Homo sapiens: one gene and its partners. The protein of the gene in region 7 interacts with the protein of the main gene of each other region in a biochemical or structural test. Each region holds a gene or a part of one and is shown on either strand. Other genes may lie near its edges.

Region 1 (3,500 bases), on a different chromosome or scaffold from region 7:
AATGATGATAAAACTGTAATAGAAAACGTCTGAACCATCTAAACTCCCACAAAACTGACTTTTTGTTCCAATGTTTTCAGATGTTATAAATGTCACTATATTCTTCAAATTATCCATAACTTGATCACATTCTTAAATTACTACAGGTATTACAATAACTAACAGAAAGAAATGTTCTTACCTGGGCCATATTTTTGATAAGCTGATCAAATTCATCACAAGCAGGTTTCCCATTAATGTGTGGAATACCAGGTCCTGTAAGTGCTTCCAGATTCCCATTGTTTGGGGATAATAAAAACGATTCATTTTGCAGAGTAGGAATCACAGCTGGGCTGAGATGAGGAACGTGGGCATATTCAATATTTGAAGTTGCTGAAGTTGCAATATTTACCTAAGAGTAATGCAGGGATTATTAAGAATTTTGACATTCCATAAACTATTTCATAGAAAATATCCCAAGGGTACAAGGACATACAAATGAAATTTCAAAATGTCCAAATCCTTTAATCCAGCAATTCTATTTTGGGAAATTTATTTCAAGGATGAACATTAGGATAATACACAAAGATGTGTGTGCATCACTAAATGTTCAATGCAGCACCATTTATTAGATGGGAAAATTCAAAAACTACCGCCAGGGTTCAACTTCAGGGTACTCATTAAAACACACCCATAAATATATACATCCACACATATATTTTTCTGTCCCCAGATCCTATGAAGTAACCTCTAAACTCTCAGAATTTCCCCTCTCAGAATTTCCTGAGTGATGAGGTATCTTTCTTCTTCATGGTGGGCCCCAAGGCCACATGATATAAGCCCAAACTCGGAGCTGAATTTTAATCATATAGGCAGGGCAATCAATCACACCTATGAAATAACACGCCAATAAAAAATGCTGAACACCAAGATCAGGTAATCTTCCTGGGTTTGCAACACAGTCAAACACAGCTATACATGTGTTTGTGCTTTAAGCTAAGTGCTATTATGAGAGTCAAAAGTTTAAAAAAAAATTAAGACTTTATAAAGGAAAAAAAAGTTACAGTAAGCTAAGGTTAATTTATTATTGAAGGAAGTTTTTGTAAATTTACTATAGCCTAGGTGTACAGTATTTATAACTTATGTATAAACTCTATGCATAAGAGTTTTTTACCTGTCCTTAAAAATAAAACAGAAAACTCATTGTTACCAAAGTTACCAATAACTCAACCATTATATTGGCTATCTAGTAGCATACAGTATATTGACTATCTAGTAGTGTACAGTAATGTCGTAGGCCTTCACATGCACTCACCACTCACTCACTGATTCACCTATAGTAACTTCCAGTCCTGCAGGCTCCATTCATGGTACGTGTCTCCTATACAGGTGTACCATTTTTTACCTTTTAACCACATTTTTACTGTACCTTTTCTATATTTAGAAACACAGACAATTACCATTGTGCTACAACTGCATACAGTACTCCATATAGTAACATGCTGTACAGGTTGGTAGACTAGGAGCAATACCAAATAGCCTAGCTGTGTGGTAGGCTATATCACCAAGGTTTGGGTAAGTATACCCTACGATGTTTGCACAAGGATGAAATCACCTAATGACACATGGCTGTACTCTATACATATTGTCACACATCGATTCTGGGAGAGTTATACTTTCCCAGCAAAATGGAAGCTTCCAGTTTGGAATCCTCCCATAATCTGCACTACGCATCTCTTCCTTTGGCTGACTCTTGACTGCATCCTTTCCCTACCATAGATCATAACCATGAGTTTAACAGATTTCAGAGACTCTCTAAGACCTTCTAGTGAATTATGAAACCTCAAGGTGGCTAGGGGAACCTCGCAAATTTGCAGCTGACATCATAAGTGAGGGTGGTTTTGTGTATCCTTATACCTTTAACTTTGTAGCTGGACCCTAACTCGCCACAGTTGGTATCAGAAGTGTGGGGCAGCACTGGCAGTCTGGAGGACTGTGCCCTCAAATCGTGCTGTCTGGCTAACTCCAAGTACAATGACACACGTAACAACAACGGAAAAGATCATCCCACTTTGGGAAATGATTCTATAATTATTTGTGTGTGCCTTTTAAAAGAGTTTGAAGTTAAATCTAAATAATAATAAAGCAATGCAGTCAATCCTAATTTCATATTTATGTTGGGTGCCTGGATTGTGACTTTTTATCTGTAACTACTTATCAGAAAGCTTACTTCATTGATGTTTTTGAGTCACTCTCTGACCTCATCTCCTAGCAGTCTGTCCCTCACCCACTTAGCCCTAGCTGTGCTCCCCTCCTCACTGTGCCTCAAAGTGCCAAGCTGTTCACTCTACCAAACAGGTATATTCTTCCCCAAATATCCACATGCTTCCTTATTTCATTCAGGTGTGCCTAATCTCACCACAGAAAAGTCCTCCTTCGCATTCCTATCTAAGACAGCACCATTATACTCCACGAACTTACTGTGCCCTGTTTTAATTCATGGCACTCATTACCACCTGATCCACACCCTGCTGTCATGAAGCTTTCATCCCAGTCAGTGGAGACCGACTAGAATGCAAAAACTCTCCAGTGGAAATTTTTGACTATTTTATTTTTACTATGCCCTCGTTCTCTAGAAGAATGCCTTATACAGAGTTGTTCAACATACATTGGCAGAAAAAAAATGTTTATCTATTTTTTAAGGATCTAACTCTGATCCAATCTCCTGAACAACCTTTCAAGTATCATCTCAATGCTAAGGATGATGAAATTACGTAAAGTCACACAGCTAAGTTGTTTGTGACCTAGATTTTTTTTCATCACGGTGTTCCTATCATCCTTGTATTATACAGAAAACATACAGTCCTTGTATTATCCACAAAACATTTGAGATATCATTTAAAATAAAACATTAGGTAAAGAACATCCACTGACAGAAGCTATCAAAATATTTCACAATATGTCACCAAAATCTATACATAAGAGTTTGTTACCTATCCTTAAAAATAAAACAGAAAACTCATTAAGTTACCAAAGTTACCAATAACTTAACCATTATATTAGCTTTCTACAATCACAGATGAAAAAGAGATCAATGTGTTGAGAAGAGACTTTTGGGAATCCTTTTAAATGTTTATTTTAAAATCTATAGCAGGCATGATCAATTATTATTTTTTCAAAAGTAAGCTTCTTATGCCAAGATTGATTTTTTTTTTATCCTGAGCCATGGCAACTTCAATAAAGTTTGCCAGCAGAAGACACGCAGCTCAGGTTGAAGCAGATGGCATAATGAAATTTGTGACAGCCTGAGGATCCCACACACCAAGACCTAATGGCTATGGTATGTTTGCATAGGAAAAAATATTTGGACTTATGCTATGGTAAGCCAGAATGAACAAATCGCATCCCGAGAATAGAGAGTCTGTCTGTAAGAGATTCATGGTAAAAGAGAAGCTCTGATATTATGAAAGAGTAGGTATACAGGCATTCTAAGAGTAAAGTGAGTGAGAGCAGAACAAGTA
Region 2 (3,500 bases), on a different chromosome or scaffold from region 7:
ACTGAGCTCACCAGGAAGTTCCTTCCAAATGATTCATTCCTTTCAAAAACAGAAATGTTTAGTTTTGCTAATTAATTCCCTCAAATAATTTCATCTGCTTTGCCATATATACCTAGGAACAGTCTTCCAAGGACTGAGAGCAGAATGATTGTCTCTCGAAGCCTACATTACTTACTCCTATTCCCATTGTAGAGCTCCACCCAGGGTCTCAGGTGTGCTCAGCTTTAGTAGGCATCAAAGAAACACAACCTAGAACTCGGAACACTTCCTTTAATACTCTGAAAACAAATGACTCTCAACAAATGGAAAAAAATGGCCCCAAGTGGAACATTATTTCCCCCTCAGAAGAACCTAGAAGGTCCTTGAAGCTACATGTCCTGGAAGAGTTAATTCCTACTGATGACTAGAAAGTACTGTTTTCTCTGTTTACCTTCAACTCAAGTGACAAAATCCAAAGTATCTGCAATGTTCTCACGTCTCCACCAAAGCTTTTAATACGATGGCAAAGGCATAACTGGATTTTAGTCACATTCTATTCATTACAGCCATAACTGTTACCTACCAGTAAGAATAACTATTCTAATAACTCTCTCCCACAATGGGTTACAAACATTCCCTCCAAATGCCTGACTTGTCACTAACTCGTGTGTTTAGTACCATAGTTATATAGGGTATCTATAATATAGAGCATACTGTAAAGTTTCCAAAGATGATACCATGTTTTCTCTGTGAACATAATGCATATATTTAATATGGCTGATTAAAGTCTACAATAGAAATAATAATTACCACACTAATTAATTCTGAAGTCCATGTTCACATACACATATAGGTAAAATTTAGTGAACATGTGTACTCAAGAATGTGACATAAGATCCTTGCCATGATTAAAGGTATGATTCGAAATCTTTTGGTCAGCCTAACTTACTAAAACACAAATATTTGATTCATGGAAGATCCATTAAGAGATTCACTTTCAGCCGGGCGCGGTGGCTCACACCTCTAATCCCAGCACTTTGGGAGGCCGAGGCGGGTGGATCACGAGGTCAGGAGATCAAGACCATCCTGGCTAACATGGTGAAACCCCGTCTCTACTAAAAATACAAAAAATTAGCCGGGCGTGGTGGCGGGCGCCTGTAGTCCCAGCTACTGGGGAGGCTGAATGGCGTGAACCCGGGAGGTGGAGCTTGCAGTGAGCCGAGATCGCACCACTGCATTCCAGCCTGGGCGACAGAGGGAGACTCCGTCTCAAAAAAAAAAAAAAAGAAAGAAAAAGAAAAAAGTAACTTACTTTCACCACCACCGCTGTTACTGCACCCCCATACAGTAACTGTAGGAAAACAAAATAGAAACCATAACCACTGATATTCTAATTGAGCTAAAAGGTAAAATAAACATTCATTATAACAAAATGTATCTGACTATGGTCTGCAATATACAATGGTGTGTAAATGGTTAAGGAAAGCTACATTACGTTTTTCAGGTTAAAAAACCTGATTTAACTTTAACCATCTGGCAGAGGCACTAAACAAACATCTGTGCTGATTTTAAATGACTAAAGTACAAGTTACTAATTGAAAGCTTAGGATTTCTCATAAATGGTGTGAACACACACATCACTAGAGAGTCTACTGAAACAGTATTTTCTCTTCTCCTTGATTCATTCGCCTGCCATGAGCATGCATCTCTCTAGGTCAAAGCAGGGATACTTGTTTTCTACCTCAAGGCTTCCTGTTCCTACGAAAATCCTTGTTAAAGCCTATTTTACAGACCAATACAAGCTTCATATTAAAAAAAAAATAAGAAAAAAAAACTCATCCAGTTGGCATTCTTCTGAAAGACTTTGAGAAATTAAATGCATTTACAGGTGAGGCTGTTTGGCTGTCCACATTCTTCGGCAATGAATCATGAGCAAGAGTCACTTGATAATACAGTGATGTCCTTCATCAGTGTCAAAATACTTCCTCCCCTATCACTCTATCATATCAAAAATATCATACCAACAGACCTTTAAAAACTGCAGAATGGCTTGTGGAAGCAGAGAAAGGAATGAGAATTGGGCCAGACGTTAAAACAAACAGCTAGCTCTACAAATACACTGTCTGCAACCACATCTAAGAGATCTGAGTGGATAAGAGCAGGATGCACACGCTTAAGACAGAAAGTCCATCAAATTCAACTTTCCTGGCTATTCTGGGCCATTCTGTGTTTGACTTTCTTGAAGGCGTGGTCAAGGTATACCAGGCTCTCTATAAGTAAGCACCACACTCATATTTTAAGCAGTATTATGCACACCTCAGATGTCAAGGGCTAGCTTTACCATTTTTGCCTTAGCCTCATATTACTCATTCCCAGAGTTGATAATTTTTCTTAAAGCAAACTCACTGCTTTACTTAATATTTATTTTTGCCTCATTCTAAGCAATCTAGCCATGAAATAAATGGATGTGGTAGCTGGTTTTCTGTTTTTATTCCTAACATATAATATTCATGCATCATAATTGAAAAATAGAATATGTATCTCTCTGCACCACCTGTAAGTCTGTCTGTATACCAGACTTTGGAAAGCACTGTTTTGGGATAGCATAAAAGGTAGAGAAAATGCTTTATTAAATGATTAGGTATTTTGGGGGTATGATAGTCCTTACTCTGTCTCCTCTGAGAGCTCACAGGTTATCTAGGATGATGAAGCTTTGGTTGTTTAATGGCCAGCTGGATGATAGAGACACCAATCCCTTTAAAAAACAGAATGGAGCCGTCACTGTTATGGGTAGCCATTGCCCCAGCTTGTGCAGGTCTTCTGGGGCTCTAGCTGTCAGTCACCCAGTTCTAAGAAGTGCTTTTCCTAATCAAATGGAAAAAGTGGAAGCAGACACTCTCCAACTCGGAACTCTGCCTCTCACACTACAATGTATGCAGCATACTAGCTCAACTGCTTTCCTAGGTACCATCCAAAATTAAAACTAGTGGCCGGGCACGGTGGCTCACTTCTGTAATCCCAGCTACTTTGAAGGCTGAAGCAAGAGAACCGCTTGAACCCGGGAGGCAGAGGTTGCAGTGAGCCAAGACCGCACCACCACACTTCAGCCTGGGCAACAGAGCAAGACTCCATCTCCAAAAAAAAAACCAAAAAAACAAAAATAAAATTAAAACTAGCTACTGCAATACTGCATATTGGATTTCCATGCCTGAATTTTTTTTTCCATTGCTATCACACAGCCTTTTCAAAAAGTTTAATAGTAATACCACCTTAGACCCTCCCAAATTCACTTTCTATATGGGCATCTACTAAAAAGGCTGATTGCAAAAATTCCTATGAGGGAGAAACAGGCCCTAAATAGCTTTTTAAACCTTAACAAAGTTCACATAACCATTGATGTGTTTAACCCACTAAATGGGTGTTAAATCTAACCTCTGAGTCTGTGTTTCTGACCCTAACCCTTGGATTTAGGATCAAGACAAAAACTCAGTAAAACACCAGAGAAAACTGTTCTGCTTCCC
Region 3 (3,500 bases), on a different chromosome or scaffold from region 7:
CCATACCTAGTTTTCTTTTTTTCTAAATAATAAGTGATCCTCCCACTTCAGCCTCCTGAGTAGCTAGGACTACAGGTGCACACCACCATACCCAACTAATTTTTTGTTTTTAAATTTTGTGTAGAGTCTCACACTCCTGGTCTCAAGCAATCCTCCTGCCTCAGCTTCCCAAGGTATTGAGATTACAGGAGTAAGCTACCTAAAGCTGTTTTTTAAAGCCATAACTTAAAAAAAAAAAATCAAACTACAGCCTGCAGCAATCACTGATGGTCATTCAGGTCACCCATTTAACAAGATCCCACTGAATTTTCCACCTTACATCATAAGTTTCTGATCATCAGCAACAGATCCAAACAATGACTCGTGCAGCAGGTGCCAGGCCACATCCTCTACAACAGCTGAGTGGCCAGTAAAGATGGCTTTAGCATCCACAATTTTGCCTTCTTTTGGTCCTGCGTTTATATCCCACAGACAAACAGTCTAAGAGAGAAGGAGAGAAAAAAAAAAGAACAAGGGCTATAAGAGACTGATTTTTTTTTTTTTCCCTCGAGACAGTGTCTCAGTCTGTCACCCAGGCTGGTGCGATCTCGGCTCACTGCAGCCTCCGCCTCCAGGGCTCAAGCGATTCTCCTGCCTCAGCCTCCTGAGCTGGGATTACAGGTGCAAGCCACCATGCCTGGCTCATTTTTTTTGTATTTTTAGTAGAGACGGGGGTCTCACCATATTGGCCAGGCTGGTCTTGAACTCCTGGCCTCAAGTGATCCGCCTGCCTTGGCCTCCCAAAGTGCTGGGACTACAGGTGTGAGCCACTGTGCCCGGTCAAGAGATTGAATTTAAATGCTAACATCTTATTTAAAATAATTTCATTACAAACAAAACTATTCAACTATATAAGTTTGAGGTAAACACAAGAGAGAAAATATAAGCAAACAGAAGAGTATGTGGCTGCAGCCTCCATGTGAGGTGCAGAGGAAAAGGACACTCCACTGTAATGAGGGGGAGGGGAGACTGAGTACAGTGGCAGGCAAGGACACTGATGCTGGAATTTCTACCTACATACATTCAGACATTCAAGTACCCCAAATTCACTTAGACAACACAACAAATCACCAAGAGCCCGGCGCTCAGCATCTACTGAACACAAATGCACATCCTAAAAGTTTACACTGGGATGGGAAGACTGGGAATTAAAATTAAACTCTGCCTCTCACATAGCAAAAGCCTCATGGACAAGTCTTTCACTTCATGGCAGAAACCACCACAGACATCAGGAGATGGGACAGGTAAACGACACTGGGCCAGAAACCTCTACTAGTCTACTCTGAGAGGTCAAGGCCTGGCGCCCACAGACAGATCCCCAATGATGTGCTCCTTGAAACGTCAGCAGAGCCCAAGCAGAGGCCATGGGGCCTCTGCTTGGGCCTCAAAGGTCACAGCAGCCCACAAATAAGGAGGCCTCATGATGTGGGCCTTGACATCCTATCACAGAAAGAGTTAAGAGGAAAGTTTTAATGAAAAAATATTGCAAGGTATAGGGCAACGATTCTCATTCAATAGTTAATAAGAAATAATACCATGAAGGTATATTAGCACTAATTATAGTTCCACCGACACTGGTATGGGTTTTTTTTTTTTTTTTAATTCATAGCACGTGATCATGAAAGGGCTTCATCTGTTTTTATTAAATCACCTTTTTTTTTTTTTTGAGACGGAGTCTCACTCTCTTGCCTAGGCTGGAATGCAAGGGCACAATTTTGGCGCACTACAACCTCCGCCTCCCGGGTTCAAGCAATTCTCCTCCCTCAGCCTCCCGAGTAGATGGGATTACAGGTGTATGCCACCAAGCCCAGCTAATTTTTTTGTATTTTTAGTAGAGACGGAGTTTCACCACGTTGGCCAGGCTGGTCTTGTACTCCTGACTTCAGGTGACCCACCCACCTTGGCCTCCCAAAGTGCTGGGATTCCAGGCGTGAGCCACTGTGCCCAGCCACATGAAGGACTTTCTGTAACAAAGCTATTTCCCAGTAATGGCTATTTTCCCAGTAACAAAATTTTTTTTTACACAATACATATGCCCTCAGTCTCTGTTGTTACTTACACATGAAGACACTCAATGTGTGTGAACTGAAGAGAAAGGAACATGTGGTGCTCCTGCCATTCACACTGACTCAGAAGGACCTGGCAAGATTAGCATGATGCTTGGCATGTGGGTAGCCCCTGGTAAATGTCAGCTATTATTATTACTACCAATTCCCAGCCTGGTCTCTTCAAAAGGTACTAGTAATTGGGTTACTGAGTACAATCCACTTATCCACTTTCCCTACTTGGGAAACCGTCTCATACACACTTTGAGGGAAGCATCCTTTCAGAGAGCCTATAATCCCAGCTCTTTGGGAGGCCAAGGAAGGTGGATCACTTGAGCCCGGGAGTTCAAGACCAGTTTGGGCAATACGGCAAAACTCCATCTCTACAAAGAATACAAAAATTTGCTGGGTGTGGTGGTGGGCGCCTGTAGTCCCACCTACTTGACAGGCTGAGGTAGAGAACCACTAGAGCTGGAAAGGTGGAGGGTGCAGTGAGCCGAGACTGAGCCACTGCACTTCAGCCTGGGTGACAGAGCAAGACCTTGTCTCAAAAAAAAAAAAAAAAAAAAAAAAAAAGTGAAAAGACAACAGAATGGGAGAAAATTTTTGAAAATCATAGGGACTTATACCTAGAATACATAAGAAACTCTTATAACTTGACAATAAAAAGACAAAATTAAAATATGGACAAAGAATTTGAATACCTATTTCTCTAAAGGAGATATGCAAATGGCCAGTAAGTACAAGAAAAGATGCTCATCATCATTAGTCATCAGGGAAATGCAAATTAAAACCACAATGAGCTGGGCGTAGTGACTCATGCCTGTAATCCCAGCACTTTGGGAGGCCAAGGCAGGAGGATTGCTTGAGCCCAGGAGCTCAAGACCAGCATGGCCAACATGGTGAAACCCTGTCTCTACTAAAAGTACGAAAATTAGCTGGGTTTCATGGTGCATGGCTGTAATCTCAGCTACTTGGGAGGCTAAGGCAGGAGAATCGCTTGGACCTGAGAGGTGGAGGTTGCAGTGAGCTGAGATCGTGCCACTATACTCCAGCCTGGGTGACAGAGACAGACTCCGTCTCAAAAAACAAACAAAACAACAACAACAACAACAACAACAAAAACCAACTCCCCACCCCCAAGCCAAAAACAAACAAAAAAAAACCCAGGAAATACCACTTTATGCACACTAGGATAGCTATAATAAAAAAGACAAGCATTAGTGAGGATGTAGAGAAACTGGAACATTTGTACATTGCTTGTGGAAATGTAAAATGGAAAGCCACTTTGGAAAACAGTTTGGTAATTCTTCAAAAAATTAAACAGAGATACCATATGATCCAATAATTCCACTCCTAGGTATATATCCAAGAGAAATAAAAACATACATCTACACAAAAACTTGTAAACAAATG
Region 4 (3,500 bases), on a different chromosome or scaffold from region 7:
TGAAGGAATGAAGAGGTCCCAGGCGTGGGGGCCTCTTGGGGGATGCACACACCTCAACACACACGCATACAGCACACGCACAGGCACACAAACGGCGCACGCACGCACACACACACACAGCACACACACAGGCACGCATGCATGCACACACGCACAGGCACACACACAGCACACGCGCACAGGCACGCGCGCACACACACATTCTTGCTTTAGGCTTTACATCCACTCCCATTGGCCTGGCCTGTTTCTCCTCTGTGGGACCAAGGTGTTTCCAGCCCCACAAACGCCCCCTCCCCCAGACCCCAGGAGCCCAAGCCCCAAACCCCCGCCCCCAGTCCCAGCATCCCCCTCCCCACGGCTCTCTCTCACCCTACCGGCCCTTAGGGATTGCTGCAGCTCCGAGGCTCCGAGGGCCGCACTGGGGAGGGGGCCACCAGGGTCTCCTACCTTGAAGGGGGAGAGGTGGGCGTGGCCCACGACCCCGTGGCCAGCCTCGAGGTGGGACAAGTTCCTCTCCGCCACGTGCACCAGCTCGGGGGCGTTTACCTGGTTGGGGAGGTGGGCCGGGCTGTGCTCCAGAGGGGGCGTGTCTTCATCTTGGTAGCGGTATTTCTGGGGATGGGGACGGAGGTGTCACTGGGGCCAGCCCGGTGCCTCAGGCTCCAGGCTGGCCGCCCTGGCCGCCGCCTCTTCCCCCAGCCAGTGCAGTGCGGAAGGCCCTGGGGCCTGACCAGCTCCTCCCCCTCCCTCTCCTCTAGCCCATTGGCTCCCCTCTCTCCACTCTCCCAACAGCCCCCTCTCCCGCCAGGGCCTCAGCACCTCTCATCAATCCCCAGGTCCCAATCCCATCCCCCAACTCCTACTCCTCACATCCTGGGACACTGGCCTTCTGGTGGGCATAGCCCCTCTGGCATCTGTGTCTTCACCCCTTTCCCCACCACCTTCATCTTCGAGTCCCTCCAGCTTCTCAGAGCTCTAGCCCCGACACTCACATCTCCATTCTCTGCCTCCAGTCCCCAACTTCCTTGCTTCTCTCACCATCTCAGACTCACTCTTGTTCTAGCCTCCCCTCCCCTACCCCTCTGGCTGCTCCTACTCTGCATGGCATCCTCCCCGCGCCCCACCTCCATGGCCTCAGTCTCCCCATTGCAGCCTCTACCCCACAGGTGATTGGCTCTCCTTTACCTTGCACTCCTTAGGCAAGGACTGAAGTCACCCCTTCCACCAGAAGGTACTTGGTATCAGCCCCCGAGACAGGACAAGGCTAAGCCTGTCCAGTTCACTGCCCTTGCTGGTTTCCAAGCAGTCAACAGAGGGGCCCCGGGAGTCTGGCCCTACCCCTGCAACAGCCCACAGCCCAGCCAGCTAATCCGGTTATGCTATAAGGGCATGGGCTGGGGGAGGAAGGGGAAGAACAGAGACAGCAGGGCTCAGGACAGGGGCAAGAATGGGTGCCAGCCTCCCTGGTTGGGGAGGAGGGTAGCATGCTGAGCCTCAGAGTGAATTTCTGGTCTCCCTCTGCTCTTTTGGGGTGAAAGGCCCAACATGACCCCTGACTCCCTGCCCAGTTAATCAGCTGCCATCCCAAGGGCCTCCTGTGCTAGCTTAATAGGGACAACAGTAAAATGAGATTAACTGGGGGCCAGAGAAGGAGGAAAAGGGCAGATGGAGACAGCAGAAGAAGACAGCGTTTCTGCCTGGGTCCTTCCGTGTCCGCCTCTGCCCTCGCCTGCTCCTCTCCTCTGGAACGGGCCTCCACAGAGACTGACCCTCCAAGCTCCAGGTTCAGGAAGGGGAAGGTATCATACGCAGGGATCCCTCAGGAACTGAAGAAGACAGAATGCACCGCCCAGTACACATGGGTAAAAAGAGAAGGCACGGCAATCCCAGCACTTTGGGAGGCTGAGGCAGGCAGACAGCTTGAGCCCAGGAGCTGGAGTTGGAGACCAGCCTGGGCAACACAGTGAAACCCTGTCTACAAAAAATACAAAAATTAGCCAGGCATGGTGGTGCACACCTGTAGTCCCAACTGCTAAGGAGGCTGAGGTGGGAGGATTGCTTGAGCCCAAGAGGTGGAGGCTGCAGTGAGCCATGATCACGCCACCGCACTCCAGCCTGGGCAACAGAGTAAGACCCTGTCTCAAAAAGAGAGAGAGGCCAGGAGCAGTGGCTGATGCTTATAATGCCGAGGTGGGTACATCACCTGAGGTCAGAGACCAGCCTGGCCAACATGGTGAAATCCCATCTCTACTAAAAATACAAAAATTAGCTGGGCGTGGTGGCACATGGCTGTAATCCTAGCTACATGGGAGGCTGAGGCAGGAGAATTGCTTGAACCTGGGAAGCGGAGGTTGCAGTGAGCCGAGATCATGCCACTGCACTCTAGCCTGGCGACAGAGTGAGACTCCATCTCCAAAACAAAAAAGAGAGAGGGCGAGCAGAATTTCCCTCCCAAAAGTTTCTGAGAGGCTGAGAGTGCCCTAATACTTAGAGGGCAGCAGCTGCGAGATCAAATGGGAGGAAGCTTATCAAGGTCAATGGCCAATCCTTGAGTAGGATTCTGAAAATGTTAAAGATGATGAATCAAGGCTGAGAATATAACACAACTTTGGCTGTAGAGTAAGGGTACAGTAAGAGAATGGGAGAAGGGAAGTGGTCCTGTCAGCACGAAAACTCTCAAACCCAGAACACAGAGACAACTCAAATCAAGAAGCACCCTGATACATTTAAAGAGTCTTAAAGAAGGAAAACGGGCTCAGCAAGATTGAGTCTATTCTCTGGGCCACAGACTTGGAGAGAATCCTGAACTCCAGATTTCAATCCGATGGGCACAAAAAGTAGAGAAGGAAAATAGGAGAACACACAAAATAGCCCTCCTCCAAGGCTGAGCTGTCTTGAATAAAGGAGTTCTATGAACCAACAGAGACTGTTCATTCCACATCCTGAGAAGGTGGTCTTCTACCTGGGCAGTGCACAAGCTGAGGGGCAAGCCCCAGAATTGAGACCTGGGGGAAGGGGTGGAAGCCGCTCTCCGCTATCCACTCTTCCTTCACAAGGCCTCCAATTCCCTGCAAGGTAAATTAGGACCAAAGCTCCAAGTTTTGGAGTCTGGGGGAGGGTTTGAGTCCAGTGCCTCTCCATCTTCACTCCACCTCAGAGAGAAAATTCCTGAATCTGAGGAGGAAATGTCAGCGTGCACCCAAAGAAAATGGAAACATGAGGAGGGCCATTTCATCATTTATTCTAGGGAGGAAATGAAGGTAAACTTTTATCTCAGCGAGCCCCCAATACCTCTCCCTGCCCCACCCCCATGGAGGGAGGGTGGTGTCTGGCACTGAAGAAAAGGCTCCTCAGGATTGGGAGGCAACATGGAGAAAATGGGGAACAAGAAATGGGTGCCAGGGTTTCCAGAATGTGGCTGGAAGAGGTTAGGGACTAGGTTCAGTCTCTGGAAATTTTCGACGTACATGTAGGGGGGCGGGGAGAAACGTCGGGAGGGG
Region 5 (3,500 bases), on a different chromosome or scaffold from region 7:
GGGTTAAATTCCTGGTCAGTTCTATGCCACAAAGAGCACAAAGTGTACTCACCTGTACAGAGTTTTGTCATGTTCACTGAATTGATTCTGAGAAGTGGGTTTGGGACCAATGATGGGAGCACCTGAAGGTTTAGATGCTACTTCTGGAGGCTGTTTAAAAAAAAAAAAAAAAAAAAGACAAATATGCCTAAGGAACAGATAATTAACAGAATAGATATCATGTAATGGCGGAGGGGAGAGCCAAGAAGCCTTTTAAACGGTGTGCCCATGCATCCAAGGCACTAAAGACATATTTACCTTAAAACTGCCAGTGTCATTTACATCCTTCTTGGTCTCTAAGGATGCAGATCTTTTGTTTTCAAACATCTTAACTCTGGTGAGTACAGACTGTGGCTTCATTGCTGGATCTTCCTCTTCTTCGGTTTGAGTTGGGGGTGGAGGCAGTGGTTTGGTGTTTGAAGGCAGAGCTTCTGGCTTATGCTGAGATGAAGGTATCAGCGGAGGGACAGCTGCAGCACCATGGAGAGGCTCAAAATGACCTGCTCTAGAGGTAAATCCTTGGGGTGGTACTTGCTCGTAACTGCGTGAATATTGCTCAAAATACTGCTTGGACTCTGCAGGCTTGGGCCCTGCTGAAGGGTGGGGCTGGGCTTCCGGTCTGAGTCTACCATGTGTGTCATACCCAGGAGCTGGCTGCTCTTCGTGCCGCAGGGCGGATGCTCTAGGTGCCTGTTCGTAACGTGGTCTGCTGTCGTAAGACAGAGGGGCTGGCTCTTCAAAACGTGGAAAGTACCCTCGTTCTGAGGACTCTTCGGGATGCTGTCTGGAGTCAAGGTCTTGAGAGTGCTGATTATCAAAAGGTGGCCGAGATGGGTAGGGCTGTTTGTCATCATAATATGACCACTGTTCTTCATACATGGGGACGCGATCTTCGTATCGCAGACGATGTTCATAGTTTCGAGAAAACTGGTCCGTATAGCTTGAGGACTCGTATCTGTATGTGGGCTGCTCGAGGTCTCTGCTGGCTTGTTTCTCTACGTATGGGAGTTGGGGTTCATAGGTCAGATTAGGCTCTTTGTCTGGCCTGTGCCCTGGGTGACTAACGGCTGGCTGTTTCAAAACATGGTTCTGCCTCATCATTTCCTCGGGATATGGATCCTTTCTATACACCTGTATAAAAAATTCACATTTAAGGACAAAGTCTTGTTTCTAATTCTAGTCTATTTTATTAGACTGTGATTAAATATTAAACTACGATTTAATATGTGAAAATGGTATGTTTTACCATTTATTATCAGGATAGACAAGATTAGTGGAAAAAGCTGGTTTAAGTGAAAGCTCAAAATTTATAATGCAGGTAGGGGCTTTTATGTTTCAGCATGTACTAAATAAACAGTGAGTTAAAGATAAATATTAAATTTAGTAGAAAATTAATGCACTATTGATTACACTTCATTTTGACACTGAAAAATCCTAAAGAAGATTTATGGGCATCATAATTTGTATTAACATAAATATGTTTATGATGGGTTTCGATTACATATTAAGGAATTCTGGAAGATACTGAAAGCCAAAAATAAAAATAATAAGCACAAATCTCAATTAAAAGGCCTGTTTTCAAATAATCAGTATACCAATGGAAGCCATGCAAACTACGAAACTGAAATGATTTGTATTGATTTGAAAGCATTACAGTGTATAAGCCTGCAGTAAAAAAGCAAAAGGAACACTTAAAGGGCAAAGCAAAAATGATCATGTGCCAGATTGATGGACAGCAACAAATTAGTGCAACACCGCAGCACAGGTACCTTTGTTGGATCTACATGCGACGACAATGATGGTTCTTGATCTCTTAGCATTATGTGAGCTGCCTCAGTACTTGGTGTTCTTAAAGAATCAGCTTGTGGTGAGTAAGAGGTGGAAGGAGCTGGGGTGGGCTCCTCCAGTCTGACATTAGTTAAATTTACATTATGATTAACAGCAGAGGTTGATGATGCTGGGTTTGTTTCAGGCGAAAGGTAAGGGACTGGAGATGAAGCTTCTGCTTTCTGTGAAGTGTTTAAAATATTTTAAATATAGTGTTTCTGTTTACTGCTAACTTTCCACTTCAATTTATAGTGATTGGTAGACATACATTTTAAGTGTGCTGAATAACAAAATTATGACCTCATGTCCTAAACTTTTTGGGAAAAAAAAAAAATCCAGTACATTGCTGTGTTAAGACAAACACACAAAATTTAGAATTAAGCCCTTGGTACTCTCAAATTGAAATTGAAGATTAATTCTTAATCTGGAGAAAGGACAACATATATATTTTTAACTCAATCACCACATTCTAAAATTTAATAATGCACCTCTATCTACAAAACGTTGAATGCTTGCTGCTTACCTGTTGAGAGGCTGGCTTAAATCCAGGGGAGTCTATTCTATGAATTGGTTGTGGCTGCGCTTGTGGTGAGTAAGGAGGATATGTTTGGTTTTCATGATGCATTCCAGAGGAGTCCTCTCTTACAGGCTCAGAGGACCGTGTAATGGCAGACTCCGGTGGAGTCCCAACCTCATCATTAAGAGTTTCATCTAGTTCTTGATCAGTGTAGGCCCCGCCTTCTGTGTCTGTGTCTTCATAGTCAGAAGTGTGTCTACTGTCCGTGCTATACATTGAGTATTCACTACCTGGAGCTGACAGGTAGGACAGACGATCATCATGCAAATCAAGGTCATCACTTGTAGCACCATCCGCCTGGGTCAAATAAAAGTAAATTACAAATTTTATTCAGTAGTTCTTTAAGAGATGGCCTTTATCGTACAAGGCAGATTGAAAAGGATATCTTTCTCTGGAGAAGTCACATCTACTTCTTGAAACTTCTGGTAAGGAAAAGTCAAGAAGATTGTACAAGCACACACGCAGACACATGGAGCACCCCTTGAGATCTGAAGGGCATGGATGAAGGAAACAGTGGCCGGTAAGCCAGGACAAAGTTAGACTCCAGGGCCCAGCCCTGGAAGACAACGAAGAAACTCTGACACTGCTCAGATTTATAAAACCTACTCACTAGCTCTTCAGCCCTTTTAAGCAAGGGGAAGAGGGAGAATGTTACCAAACTAAGCTCACAGAAACAAGGACACACTGACAGAATAGCACATGGAAGAATACCTATGAAATAAACCCAACAGTTCAAAAGTTGAATAAGAGCTAATATATTTATGTTTAGGAAACAACTGATATGGTTTGGATTTGTGTTCCCACCCAAATCTCATGTTGAATTGTAATCCCCAGTGTTGGGGGAGGGGCCTGGTGGGAGGTGACTGGATCATGGGGGTGGTTTCTAATGGTTTAGCACCATCTCCCTCACACAGTCTTGTGATAGAATTCTCCCAAGATCTGTTTTTTTAAGTGTGCAGCACCTCCCCAACTCTCTTCCTCCTGCTCCAGCCATATAAGACATGCTTCCTTCCCCTTCCGCCACGATTGTAAGTTGCCTGAGGCCTCCCCAGAAGCA
Region 6 (3,500 bases), on a different chromosome or scaffold from region 7:
TCTATGCCCCTTCCACTGGGCTCAACCTTCAACCCAGTGTGGAAAGTGGGGCATGGGCCGCCCACCTCCAAGGTCTACCCAGCCTCAAAGGTCCGGCTCGGGTCTGCTCCTCCGCCTGTAGGCCGGGAAGTCACTTGGCCTGCAGGGAGCACTGCGGGTAGGGAGGCCGAGGAATGGACCAGGCCCACAGCAGGTGCCTGTGGGGCTCCAAGGGGCCAGGCTCCCCGCAGCTCTCCTGGGGCCAGGAGGGGAGCAGGGACCTGGCTGGGTGTCTGATGCCCGTCGCACAGCCAGAGCCCTTAAAGCTGCTGGAGCCTTGCAGCGGGGCCTTTGCGGGGAGGGGGTGTAGCTGCGGTGGGTGGCACGGGGGTCTCCTAGGTACTGGGCAGAGGCCCTCGAGGTGGTAGCGCCGGTGGGAAAGGTAGGGATGGGAGGCGGGGGTGGGCGGGCCTCAGGTTCAGGGAGCTTCTCAGATCTGAGGCGCCCATGCCCCTCTCCCACCTGTGGGCCTCTCCAGCCCGAGTCCCTGAAGCAGCTCTGGAGGGAATTTCTTTTCTGGAGGAGGCGGGAGTGAGAAACGGGAGCAGGGTGAGGGTTCCCAAGTGCACATCGGCCCGTCCGCTGCTGGGTGGTGTCCACGGGGGCAGGGCTGGGCTGGGGGAGGCCAGGGTCCTGGGCCGGCACACCCTCCTTCCGGCTGCCTGTGTCCCTCCCTCCAGCTGCCTGTGTCCATCCCTCCGGCCGCCTGTGTCCCTCCCTCCGGCCCCTAAGCGCCAACTCATCTTCAGTTCAGGGACCTCCGTCAGGCTCCCTCACCCCAGCACTCAGCAGGAGGCTGCCGGCCTGGGTGTCCAGGGGATGGTGCGGGTGTCCAGCAGACAGTACAGGGGTTTGGGGGATGGTACAGGTGTCTGGGGGATGGCGTGGGTGTCCAGCAGATGGCGCAGGGGTTTGGGGGATGGCACAGGTGTCTGGGGGACAATGCGGGGGTTTGGGGGATGGCGTGGGTTCCAGGGGATGGTGCAGGGGCTTGGGGGATGGTGTGGGTTCCAGGGGACGGTGTGGGGGTTTGGGGATGGCGCGGGTTCCAGGGGACGGTGTGGGGGTTTGGGGATGGCGCGGGTTCCAGGGGATGGTGTGGGGGTTTGGGGATGGCGTGGGTTCCAGGGGACGGTGCGGGGGTTTGGGGATGGCGTGGGTTCCAGGGGACGGTGCGGGGGCTTGGGGGATGGTGTGGGTTCCAGGGGACGGTGTGGGGGTTTGGGGATGGCGTGGGTTCCAGGGGATGGTGCAGGGGCTTGGGGGATGGCGTGGGTTCCAGGGGATGGTGCGGGGGCTTGGGGGATGGTGTGGGTTCCAGGGGACGGTGTGGGGGTTTGGGGATGGCGCGGGTTCCAGGGGATGGTGTGGGGGTTTGGGGATGGCGTGGGTTCCAGGGGACGGTGTGGGGGTTTGGGGATGGCGCGGGTTCCAGGGGACGGGGCGGGGGCTTGGGGGATGGTGTGGGTTCCAGGGGACGGTGTGGGGGTTTGGGGATGGCGTGGGTTCCAGGGGACGGTGTGGGGGTTTGGGGATGGCGCGGGTTCCAGGGGACGGTGTGGGGGTTTGGGGATGGCGCGGGTTCCAGGGGACGGGGCGGGGGCTTGGGGGATGGTGTGGGTTCCAGGGGACGGGGCGGGGATTTGGGGGATGGCGTGGGTTCCAGGGGACGGTGTGGGGGTTTGGGGATGGCGCGGGTTCCAGGGGACGGGGCGGGGATTTGGGGGATGGTGTGGGTTCCAGGGGACGGTGTGGGGGTTTGGGGATGGCGCGGGTTCCAGGGGACGGGGCGGGGATTTGGGGGATGGCGTGGGTTCCAGGGGACGGTGCCTCATCCTCCAGTCTCTGTCTCTGCCTTCCCATGGCCACCTCCATGTGACTGTGTTCAAATTCCCCACCTCGTATAAGGACCCTTGTCACTGCGATTAAGGACCCCCTACTCCAGGGTGGCCTCATCTTAACTCATTATATCTGCAAAGACCCTATTTCTAGAAAAATTGCAGTCACAGGTACTGGGAGTCAGGACTTGAACCTGTCTTTTGTGGGGACACAATTCACCCATAATAGATGGTCACCCGCTCAGCTGGCTGCTGTGATTTTGGGGGGCTGGACGAGCAGGCCTTCTGTCTAGGAAATCAAACCTTTCTTGTATAATGGGAATAAACTAATTAAAATGCACACAAAGATCTCGTTCACATTAGCAAAAAGAACTCTCTCCAGATATCTAGGAGAAAACCCAGGAAAACACGTGTGAGCTCTTTACGGGGAAGACGGGAAGGCCTGAGAGACGTGTGTGCGTGGAGAGGGTGTCGGGTCCACAGAGGGGAAGACCCAGTGCGTGTGCACGTTGGCCCCATGAATCCGCAGCTTCATGCAGTGGTAGGTCAGTTTCATGGTGGCAAGATTCACCTTCAGACGCCACAAGGTCCTGGGGAAGAAGAGGTCCTGTCTCCCGACAAGGGCGGGAAGCAGTCCCAGGAGCCACCAGAGGCCTTGTCTTGCTGCTGACTGGCAGAAATGGCCAGGTTGGCCACGCCTGACTCAGACCAGGCTCGCCCCAGGGCTGGGTGGGAGTCAGTGTCCCTGAGCAGTGAGCCCTGAGCAGCACTGTGGGTCTCAAAGCATGGAAGGAGTGGGTGCTGGAGAGGCAAGCCAGCCAGCCCACGCCTGGGAGCCCACCCAGGGGACAGCCACAGGTAGCTGCAAATAATCTTGTCCGGGTGGAGACCCAGGCATTCCCACATGGCCACGGGGAAGAGTGGGGGTTGGGAGGCCATGGTGAGAGGGAGGGACACGTGAGGATCATGTGGGCAGGACCCCAACACCACAAGGGTGGGGTGGGCTGAGGCATGAAACTGGATCTCCCTAGAGTGAAATGTAAGCTCCAGCACGCTGGCACCACTGACGACACAGGAGCCATCAAAGTCCAGAAGGGGCCCCGCTGGGCACGCCCCACTCTTTCGCCATGGCTGGTGCTGGGCAGGGCCGCGGGGCTGCAGTCTGGGTGCAAGGCTCAGAGTCATTTCTCTGTGGATAGGGAGGGCACGGGTGTGCGTTCGCTTCGAGAACCATTCCCAAAGTCAGACCGCAGCCTCTGCACCAACCATCGGGGGCCAGTGGCCGCCCCCAGAGCCTCAGGGACCCTGTCCTTTGAGCCCACGCCTAAACCCACATGGGAATGATTTGGAGGCGTGGGTGAGTTGGATGGGAAAAAAATTGGGAGGGGCAAGGGGGGGATCCAGAATGAAATCCAGAAGCGCAGAAGGAAGGCTGTGAGGAGCAGTGGGCCGCCTCCTGCAGGGCTCCCGGAGCCCCTACTTGTCCAGGCTGCCTGGTGAGACCCTGGCTTCTGGTGTCCTTGGCAGGTGCCAGCCTCCCCCGCTGACCCCCATCACGAGTCAGCAGCTTACCCCACCGACCACGTCCTTCTGCATTGACTGCCTCCTGTCCTGCTCTGGCCA
Region 7 (3,500 bases):
AGAAATAACAGAGTAAACAGACAACCTGTTGAATGGGAGAAATTATTTGCAAACTGTTCATCCAACTGGGGACTAATATCCAGAATATACAACGAACTCAACAGGGAAAAAATCAAATAATCCCACTTAAAAGTATGCAGAGGATATGAATATGCATTTCTTAAAGGACACAAAAACAGCCAACAGGTATATGAAAAGATGCTCGACATTACTAATCATTAGAGAAATGCAAATCAAAATGACAATGAGCCATTCTTACCCTAGTCAGAATGGCTATCACTAAAAAGACAAAAAATAGCAGATGTTGGTGAAATGCAGAAAAAAGGGGAACTCATACACTGTTGGTGGGAACATAAACTAGTACAACCACTATGGAAAACAGTATGGAGATCTCTCAAAAAACTAAAAATAGACCGGGTATGGTGGCTCACGCCTGTAATCCCAGCACTTTGGGAGGCTGAGGCAGGCAGATCACGAGGTCAGGAGATCAAGACTATCCTGGCTAACACGGTGAAACCCCGTCTCTACTAAAAATACAAAAAATTAGCCGGGCATGGTGGCAGGCACCTGTAATCCCAGCTACTCGGGAGGCTGAGGCAGGAGAATGGCGTGAACCCAGGAGGCAGAGGTTGCAGTGAGCCAAGATCGCACCACTGCATTCCAGCCTGGGCGACAGAGTGAAACTCCGTCTCAAAAACAACAACAACAACAAAAACTAAAAATAGAACTACCATTCGATCCAACAATCCCACTACTGGGTATCTACCCAAAATTAAAGAAATCTGTATCAAAAGGATACCTGCACTCACATGTTTACTGTAGTACTATTCACAATAGCAAAGATATTAAGTCAATCTAAATGTTCATTAACAGATAAATGAATAAAGAAAATGTGGTACATATACACAATGGAGTACTATTCAGCCATAAAAAGAATGAAATCATGTCATTCACAACAACGTGGATGGAACTAGAAGTCATTATCTTACGTGAAATAAGCCAGGCACAAAAAGACAAATATCACATGTTCTCACTTGTATGTGGGAGCCAAAAAATTGATCACGTGGAGGCAGAGTGTGGAATGACAGACAACAGAGACTGGGAAGGCTGAGTGATGAGGAAAGGGGGAGGATGAAGAAAAGCTGATTAAAGGGTACAACCATAAATTACGATAGAAAGAATATATTTAATATCTGACAGCAGAGTAGGGTGACTATACTTCACAAAAATGTATTGTACTTGGATGATGGACACCCTAAATACCCTGACTTGCTTACTGTACATTCTATACATGTAACAAAATTCACATGTGCCTCATAAATTTGTATAAATTGTAAAGAATTCAATCAGTAATTACTAACTAATTTAATTTGTAAGAATTTAATTATTATTAAATCTTAGTAAGAATCAATTAGTAAGTGGTTATGACAGAGATATTCTGAAAAGCCATGTACCTTTTCCCCCTCATTGTTTGACTCAAATATATAGCAGACTGATGACAGATTACTTTCACTTCTCCCGCTTGATGTCCGAAGAACAAATCCAAAAAGGCGCTTATTTTCCTGGTGTGTAGCATACAAAACTACACAAGGTAATGGAAACTGCCACAGAAAACATCAGAAGCAAACATGAGATCTTACAAGTCATTACAGCAGCACTTGTGACAAACTCATATGCTAAGTTCTAAAAATATAAATATTTTAATATATTAAAGCCAATTATTTTAACAGACTTGTAATGCAGAAACAAGTAATGTCATATTTGGTTTGAATTAACAAGCAGAAAAAGGTTGTTGAATATTACATTTGTTTTATTAGTCATTAACACATTTTACAAAGTCAAAAAGAACTGTGTTAAAAAAATTACAAAAAGAATTGTGTTAATTCTTTTAAGTTACATAAAATGTTCAATGACAACTTTTTGGAGATGGCCATAGACTTAACTACAACAGCCAAAGACCAATCATAGCTGATACTATCACACTTGAATATACAGGATCAGGATTATTATCAAGTTGTAAGATGTGTATATATACAAAGGGACCTAAAACAAAGCTTAAATCATGTGGAACTCACCGTGAGCCTTGTAACTTGTGTCTGTGGATCAATTAACCTAAAATAATAATTTAAAAATTGGAAAACAAATTTTAATTAGGCTGAAATCATGTAAATGTTTTTTCTACAGTTTTTTAAGGGAGGGTTTTACTTACTTTAAACAGTCACAAGTGACTAATAAATGCGATTCTGTCATACGAAAGATGTTATGGATGGCCCGGGCAGCTAAGATTTGGCGCATAGTTTCATAAACAACATCTGGATGGTCATCTGATTTCACCTCCATTGAACCAAGGAATCGGACAATAAATAACTGATGAAGAATAGAATCTATAATAGAACAAGGTGTATTACATATTTTTTTTTTACTGTATAAATTTACATTTTATTTTTTTCGCCATATTTCTTTTCCAAAAGAATAAAATACACTGCCTCCTTTTAGGTTTTCTAGTGAAAAATTCAACAGCCTAAGGGAGACATTTCAAAATAACTCCTAACTACAGTATTCCAAGTTATAGGAAAATTAGGGTTTCAAATTCAAATAGCTAAAAGTAATGCTTCAACAACTGGCAGTTCTGAGGCCAGGCGTGGTGGTTCACACCTGTAATCCTAGCACTTTGGGAGGCTAAGGCAGGAGGATCCCTTGAGCCCAGGAGTTCGAGACCAGCCTAGGCAACATAGGGAGCCCTGTCTCAACACACACACACACACACAAACACACAACAACTGGTGGTTCTTACAGCATTTCTGTAAGTTTAGAATTCAAATAAATAGTTAGTGGCGGAAAAACAAAATTTATGCTCCAGTACCAGAAGAGAAACATCAGCTGTTAGGAAAAGCTTGAAAGGTATCTTAGGCACTGAATTTGACTATAAAGTCAAAAGTATGAGAGTCTATCGTTTTGTATGAATCACAACATCTTAAGTCAGATTAAGTTCTGTTGCTTCAAGTGTACTATAAGTAAGTAGAGGAAATTCTGAAGTAAAGATAGCATTAAAACTGAGCTTAGTAGCAGAGCAAATATAAACAATAAATTATTCACAGTTTGCTGAGAAGCAGTTCTAAAATATATGAATGCTGCACATCTGTCTTACCTTCAGTTTCAGATTTTGTACTTCCTCCAGATTCTCCAAATGGATTTGTACGCCTAAAAAGTTTAGAAGAAAATATGAACACATGGTCAGTTACCATGAGCCACATAGAAGAAATCTAATTATTAAAACCACAGTTAACATTTAAAAAAAAAAAGCTCTAAAATGCCCCATCCTATTAAGAAACACTATTGATCACTAAATTACTATGATGAAGGCCTCTGCCCTCACACACTAACTGATCAATGTTGGTGCACTTTAGAAGACACAGATGAATTGGAAGTTTAGACATACACAACAAAAAATCAACATAATAAACCATGTTGCAAAAGTTCTTGAATTTAAATAAGCTAGC

What was found.
Region 1: the proteins of APPL1 (region 7) and MPDZ interact in a test that uses a peptide from one of them, tested with the Homo sapiens proteins (one large-scale study listed by IntAct).
Region 2: the proteins of APPL1 (region 7) and TJP2 interact in a test that uses a peptide from one of them, tested with the Homo sapiens proteins (one large-scale study listed by IntAct).
Region 3: the proteins of APPL1 (region 7) and RBBP7 form a complex in vitro, tested with the Homo sapiens proteins (one study listed by BioGRID).
Region 4: the proteins of APPL1 (region 7) and DLG4 interact in a test that uses a peptide from one of them, tested with the Homo sapiens proteins (one large-scale study listed by IntAct).
Region 5: the proteins of APPL1 (region 7) and TJP1 interact in a test that uses a peptide from one of them, tested with the Homo sapiens proteins (one large-scale study listed by IntAct).
Region 6: the proteins of APPL1 (region 7) and RHPN1 interact in a test that uses a peptide from one of them, tested with the Homo sapiens proteins (one large-scale study listed by IntAct).

What each region holds. Positions count from the first base shown.
Region 1 is NC_000009.12:13,224,193-13,227,692, forward strand, and holds part of MPDZ (multiple PDZ domain protein), read right to left. Parts: intron 392-3,500; coding exon 182-391; intron 1-181. UniProt on the Homo sapiens protein: Member of the NMDAR signaling complex that may play a role in control of AMPAR potentiation and synaptic plasticity in excitatory synapses. Promotes clustering of HT2RC at the cell surface.
Region 2 is NC_000009.12:69,177,277-69,180,776, reverse strand, and holds part of TJP2 (tight junction protein 2), read right to left. Parts: intron 2,735-3,500; exon of another isoform or gene 2,648-2,734; intron 1-2,647. UniProt on the Homo sapiens protein: Plays a role in tight junctions and adherens junctions. Acts as a positive regulator of RANKL-induced osteoclast differentiation, potentially via mediating downstream transcriptional activity.
Region 3 is NC_000023.11:16,853,363-16,856,862, forward strand, and holds part of RBBP7 (histone-binding protein RBBP7), read right to left. Parts: intron 481-3,500; coding exon 320-480; intron 1-319. UniProt on the Homo sapiens protein: Core histone-binding subunit that may target chromatin remodeling factors, histone acetyltransferases and histone deacetylases to their histone substrates in a manner that is regulated by nucleosomal DNA.
Region 4 is NC_000017.11:7,207,628-7,211,127, forward strand, and holds part of DLG4 (disks large homolog 4), read right to left. Parts: intron 613-3,500; coding exon 547-612; intron 1-546. UniProt on the Homo sapiens protein: Postsynaptic scaffolding protein that plays a critical role in synaptogenesis and synaptic plasticity by providing a platform for the postsynaptic clustering of crucial synaptic proteins.
Region 5 is NC_000015.10:29,717,969-29,721,468, forward strand, and holds part of TJP1 (tight junction protein 1), read right to left. Parts: intron 2,741-3,500; coding exon 2,390-2,740; intron 2,049-2,389; coding exon 1,809-2,048; intron 1,171-1,808; coding exon 298-1,170; intron 151-297; coding exon 53-150; intron 1-52. UniProt on the Homo sapiens protein: TJP1, TJP2, and TJP3 are closely related scaffolding proteins that link tight junction (TJ) transmembrane proteins such as claudins, junctional adhesion molecules, and occludin to the actin cytoskeleton.
Region 6 is NC_000008.11:143,371,876-143,375,375, forward strand, and holds part of RHPN1 (rhophilin-1), read left to right. Parts: intron 1-1,856; exon of another isoform or gene 1,857-2,259; coding exon of another isoform or gene 2,260-2,418; exon of another isoform or gene 2,419-2,422; intron 2,423-3,500. UniProt on the Homo sapiens protein: Has no enzymatic activity. May serve as a target for Rho, and interact with some cytoskeletal component upon Rho binding or relay a Rho signal to other molecules.
Region 7 is NC_000003.12:57,258,729-57,262,228, reverse strand, and holds part of APPL1 (DCC-interacting protein 13-alpha), read right to left. Parts: intron 3,202-3,500; coding exon 3,149-3,201; intron 2,385-3,148; coding exon 2,210-2,384; intron 2,113-2,209; coding exon 2,076-2,112; intron 1,602-2,075; coding exon 1,455-1,601; intron 1-1,454. UniProt on the Homo sapiens protein: Multifunctional adapter protein that binds to various membrane receptors, nuclear factors and signaling proteins to regulate many processes, such as cell proliferation, immune response, endosomal trafficking and cell metabolism.